Regions from separate parts of the Homo sapiens genome. Here region 2 is linked to region 1. The links come from fine-mapping of genetic effects on gene expression. A gene starts in region 1. The other region holds a variant in brackets. All regions are shown on one strand. Distances are between the middles of the regions. Region 1 holds the start of CCPG1 (cell cycle progression 1). Region 2 has its middle 8.1 kb from the start of PIGBOS1.

What was found. PIP is the estimated chance that this variant, and not a neighbour inherited with it, causes the effect.
Region 2: its variant is fine-mapped to the expression of CCPG1 in whole blood (TOPMed, PIP above 0.99).

Annotation. Positions count from the first base shown.
Region 1 is chr15:55,407,075-55,409,834 of GRCh38, forward strand. It overlaps CCPG1 (cell cycle progression 1), which reads right to left and starts at 1,285. Exons shown (of 9, transcript NM_001204450.2): 1 at 1,147-1,285. PIERCE2 (piercer of microtubule wall 2) reads left to right here and starts at 1,421. Exons shown (of 2, transcript NM_001198784.2): 1 at 1,421-1,712. The coding sequence starts at 1,695. All of the region lies in intron 8 of DNAAF4-CCPG1 (DNAAF4-CCPG1 readthrough (NMD candidate)), which reads right to left. RefSeq lists enhancers at 505-784, 1,145-1,414, 1,465-1,664.
Region 2 is chr15:55,309,500-55,312,519 of GRCh38, forward strand. It overlaps a transcript of RAB27A not described here. Among named protein-coding and RNA genes, the nearest start is that of PIGBOS1, 8.1 kb to the right of the region's middle. The variant C/G (reference allele first, on the strand shown) is at 1,871.

The DNA of each region.
Region 1 (2,760 bases):
AAATTTAGCTGGGCGTGGTGGCGGGCGCCTGTAATCCCAGATACTCGGGAGGCTGAGGCAGGAGAATCGTTTGAAACTGGAAGGCAGAGGTTGCAGTGAGCCGAGATCGCGCCACTGCACTCCAGCCTGGGCAACAAGAGCGAAACCCTCTCTCAAAAAAAAAAAAAATATGAATTAAAATAATACCCTCACCATCTCCATCTTCTGCTATATGACCTGAACTCAGAAAATAAAAGTAAACCATTCACACTGGATGTGTGTGATAAATATCCCCTGAGACGTGTGGGACCCAATATGATTCTAATCTTAAAAGATACGATGCAGTAATAGCGATATTTCAAGCACTATCCTGTAGATTGGAGGAGACAAATCTAAAATTCATAGTACTATATAGTTAGCTATTCTAACTACAAGAATGCCCAACTGTGTTTTTCAATAAAAGTAGAGCAGAACAGTGCAAACTTCACCACTCAATAAAATACCTTACTTGGCGCTCCCAATAGTGCTAAACATAAACAACGCGTACAAGGCACTGCATGGGACAGCTGCTAATGAGGACAAATCGATTAGGGAGACCAAAGCTAAAGGAGGCCACTGGAACTGGAGAAGGATATGGAGAGGTATTTGATCATCATCAGGCTGGCGTGCTAGCGGAAGTCTCCGGGCATTATTTAATATTTAATCTTTCTATTCCTGACATCACGGGGGCTCAAATGTCATCAAAAGACAGGCTGGCATTAAACCCGGCAGGGTGACGCACATAACATCTTACCATATGGATTTTCATCAGTCCAGACCGACAAGCACCTCAAAGCCTGCCCAGTGAAGGAAGAAGGGTGGCCCAGGCCGTCAGCTCTCCCACCCTTGGCGCGCAGTTCGGTATAGCACTCGGGGTTTGGAGGCTGCAAGACCACCGGACCGGACGCCCCAGGGTCGGCTCGGGCCTCCGGAGCTGTGCACTCGCGCACGGCCCGAGGAGGTCGCCCGTGCGGCCGCTGACACCAGGCGTCAAGTCCCCGCCCGAGCAGCCCCAGCCTAGGAGGCGGACCCCGCCACTGCTCCTCTACTGAGCCGAGCGTGTCGGCCAGGGACTCAGACAGTCGGCACAAACCCCCTCCCGGGGTCTAAGCCCGCCTAGTACAGTACCTGAAGGGGCAGCGCCACCTCCGCCCGATTGTGCTGGCTGCCCCAGTGGCGGCGGTCACAGCTCGGGCGCCAATGACGCCTCTTATAAAAACAACCTGCTCGCAGGCGTCTGCAGCCGGCAGGCGGTGACCGGCTGGGCGCCGCAGTGCATGCCGTGACGCGTAGTCCCGCCTGCGCCTCCTGCCCGGCAGCGGTGAAGAGAAGAACTACCACTCCCGAAGTGGAGCGCAGGCCGCCGCCGGGCGGCTGCGGGAAGCTGGGCCAGGCGGCCGCAGATCCCCACAACATCCGGGAGCCGGCGACCACTTCCAGTTGCTATGGTTACGAGTTGCAACCTCCAGAAAGAATTCGTGGTTTCACCCGGGAAAACAGCTCCCCGGATTAAACGGATAGGTTTACACATACTGATCCACCCAGCTATTCATCTTCTGTTTGCTGCTTTAATTGGGTGCGGTTAAAAGGCCACGTCCCTAGGCGTTCACCGGCTTTCTTGCCATCTGCTGCATGAAAACTGACTTTGCCGAAAAAATTAACAAAGAAGAGCGAAAATGACAGACCGCAACCGGGTGAGTTTAGGCAGAGGGCTAGATGTTTGGGAATGTTGGTATTCGCTAGTATAATTTGAGGCACCACCTACTCCTACCACCCCCAACCCCACAACCCCGAAAAGCACTTTACAAGGCAACTACTGAGCTTTTACATTTACACTTGTAAATGCACGTTTCCTTAAGTCCGAATAGCCTCTGAAGGTGTAAAGACCATCGAGATTGTATGCATTCATACCCTACTGTTGCAAACTGTTCAGTGATGGTTTTGAACAAGAAAAACGTACTTTGTTAATTGTATACTTATTTAAATTGCACTGTGTCAAAGAAGGGAGTTGTTTTGAAAAAGGATTTGGTGGCCGGGCGCCGGGGCTCAACGCCTGTAATCCCAGCAATTTGGGAGGCCGAAGCGGGTGGATCACCTGAGGTCAGGAGTTCGAGACCAGCCTGACCTACATGGTGAAACTCCGTCTCTACTAAATACAAAAAATTAGCCAGGAGAGGTGGCGCGGGCCTGTAATCCCAGCTACTTGGGAGGCTGAGACAGCAGAATTGCTTGAACCTGGGAGGCAGAGGTTGCAGTGAGCCGAGATTGCGCCACTGAACTGCAGCCTGGGCAACAAGAGCAAAACTCCGTCTCAAAAAAAAAAAATCTTACATTTATATTCACTCTTTACAGAAGCAATAAAAAGTTTAGGTTTCATTCTCTGTCCCCTAATTGTGGTAAAAGTAAATAAATAAATGGAAAAATTAATAATAAACGTAAACATTAGCAAGGAAGACGGTGGACCTGAGCAGAGACAAAAGAGTGCCTCAAAATTAGACCTTTTTTATTTTTTATTTTTGCTTTTCTATTAACTATATTCAACATCAACAGTGACATCAAAAAATCTTAATTTTATAATTACAGCTTCTGCGATGGGCATTATTAATCAATGGCTTGTTTTCATTTATCTTTTTAAATGTATATGTATCTATACCAAAGGACTTCGAAAGGTCAAAGTGGTCTGGCTTTCTCTAACTGAAAATTAAATTACTAAGAAAGCTAATACCAGCTACTGGTAGATTT
Region 2 (3,020 bases), 97 kb before region 1:
TGGCTTAAGTCTCGGGTTAATGCCTGGCCAAATAGATGGGAGCTATCCCTGAACCCTTGGGGTAAAACAGTCCAGGTGAGTTGAGATGTTGGGTTCAAAGGATCTTCAAAGGCAAACAAGAATTGAGAGTCAGGATGTACAGGGATACAGAAAAAGGCATCCTTAAGGTCCAGGACTGTAAACCACTCTGCTTCCTCTGGTATTTGGGAAAGCAGAGTATAAGGGTTAGGTACAGCTGGGTGTAGATGGACAATGGCCTCATTGATAATCCCGAAATCTTGCACTAACCTCCACTGTCCATTGGGTTTCTGTACTCCTAAAATTGTAGTATTGCAGGGGCTACTGCACGGTTTTACTAGGCCTTGGGCTTTTAGGTCCTTAACAATTTTTTGGAGTCCTTGTTGGGCCTCGGGTCTAAGGGGGTACTGCCTTTGGTAGGGAAAGGAGGCAGAATCCTTTAGTTTAACTCGAACAGGACGGGCATTCTTTGCTCGTCCATATTGTCCTTCTGTTACCCAGACTTCAAGCAGGGGACAACAAACGGGTGTTCCTTCTCCTATGTTCAGGTGTATAATGGCCCCTGTTTTTGCTAGAATGTCTCTCCCTAACAAGGGTGTGGCAATTTCAGGCATAATTAGAAAAGCATGTGAAAAGAGTAAAGTTCTCCAGTCACAACTTAGTGGCTGGGAGAAGTATCTAGTGACTGGCTGTCCTAGGACCCCTCAGATAGTGACAGATCTGGAGGACAGTTGTCCAGGACAGAAGAGTAAGACTGAGAAGGCCACGCCAGTGTCCAGGAGACAGTTAACCTCCTGGCCCTCAATGGTCAAGCACACCTGGGGCTCTGTGAGGGTGATGGCATGGGCTGGCACTTGCCCCGGGCACCCTCAGTCCTGCTGCTGGATCATCTGGCTAGTGGCTTCTGACTCAGAGGACCTTCATCCCCTGGGGCAGTGGGCCTTCCAGTCATTCCCTTGACATAAGGGGCATGGACGAGGGGGTGGCTTATTTCTATTTGGACAATCTTTTTTAAAGTGTCCTTGTAGACCGCACTGAAAGCAAGCCCTATTAGGCATTCGATTTGCCCAGCTTTTCCCTTTTCCAGAGCCTCCAAAGTCTGCTTGCCTGAGGGCCATGACTAAAGCAATGGCCTTTTTTTAAATCCCATTTGTCCCATTCCACCTGCTCCTCCTGATCTCTATTATAAAAAACCGAGGTTGCCAAGTTCAATAGGTTTTCTAAGTTTTGCTCCGGGCCTAAGGCAGACTTTTGAAGTTTCTTTCTAATGTCTGCAGCTGACTGAGTGATAAACTTATCCTCTAAGATTAGTTGGCCTTCAATATAATCAGGTGACAGAGAGGTATGCTTCCTCAATGCCTCCCTTAGTCTCACCAGAAAGGCGGTAGGATTTTCTTCCTTTCCCTGTGTTACAGTGGACATCATTGCCAATAATTCATAGGCTTCTTCCTAGTTTTCCTTAGTCCTTCTAATACGCAGGTTAGCAAATGTCTGCGGCACCAATCTCCATATCCTGATTCTGTGTCCCACTGAGGGTCTACACTGGGAACTGACTGCTGGCCTGTGGGGAATTTTTCTCTTTCCTCTGTTGTCACCCTATCATTGACCTGACTGAGATACCAGAGATCGCCAAACTCTCAGGCTGCAGTTATGGCAGCACTTCTCTCATTTGGAGCTAGTGTCTGATTTAGCAGTAACATTGTATCTCTCCATGTCAGATCAAAGGACTGTCCTAACCCTTGTAAAACCTCAACATAGCCATCAGGGTTATCTAAGAATTTACCTAGGTCTATTTTAATTTGCTTTAAGTCTGAGAGAGAAGAAGGTACACGCACTCTGGCTGGGCCGAATT[C/G]TCCTCCCACTGCTTGGAGTGGGCATAATCGGGGAAAATTGCACTCTGTGGTTCATTGTTTACCCCTTTGTCTATCTCCTTTTGGACAGTTTGGGTTGAAGGGGGGTCCTTATTAGTTGGGGAAGGAGTCGAGGGGACGCTGGGGTAGGGAGGTAGACTCTGAGGGCTTCCCGTAGGGCATAAATCACACTTTTTACATAATTGTGAGTTGTCTCTTAATGAAAAGAAAGTTTGTACATATGGCACTTCACTCCTTATGCCTTCTTTTCTACAAAAGAGGTGTAGCTGTAAGCTAGTGTTATAATTTATACTTCCCTCAGGAGGCCAGGTTTCTCCCCCTTGAAGAGGATATCGTGGCCAGGTGGTACTGCAGAAGAATATAAGTCGTTTATTTCTTAGCATGTGAGAGTCCAGTTGGTCCCAATTCTCCAGAATACATCTCAGGGGCGTTTCTGCCTTGGGGGGAACGTTTCCCATTGCTTTGGAGATCCCTTCGTGGTCACCAAATGTTACTGGGGGTCCTTACTCCCAGAGCTCCCGATAGTGGCAGGCTGCTTCCAAGACGGTGGCAAGCCTCGTGTTCTCTGACCTGGGGTTCTTGGCCTCACGGATTCCAAGGAATGGAATCTTGGGCCATGCGGTGAGTGTTATAGCTCTATTAGAAGCCGTGGGTCACGGAAGAGAACCGTGGAACCCAGTGACTAGTGTTCAGCTCGATTAGGACGAACCCAGGCTCTTAGCCGTGCAGGAACAATGGCAAGCCTTCAGTCCGATCAGGAGTGGCAATGGGCGCCTCGCTGGATCAGGAGCACAGCAGACACCCTGCTGGATCCGGAGGGATGGAAGTCAGCGGCGGGTCTGCGACAGCGGCAAACAACAGGGGTGGACGGCGAGCAAAAGCTCAGCTGGAGCCGTAACAAATATGGACCAGAAGACTGCAGAAGCAAGACTTAATAGAGTGAAAACAGAGCTCCCATACAAAGGGAGGGGACCCAAAGAGGGTAGCCCTGAACATATATTTTCAATTATCTTGGGCATATGCCTGTAAGGGGAATTGCTAGGCCATATAGTAGCTCTACGTTTAACCATTTGAAGAACTGCCAAACTTTCCCAAAGTGACTGCACCATTTTACTTTCCAACCAGTAGTGT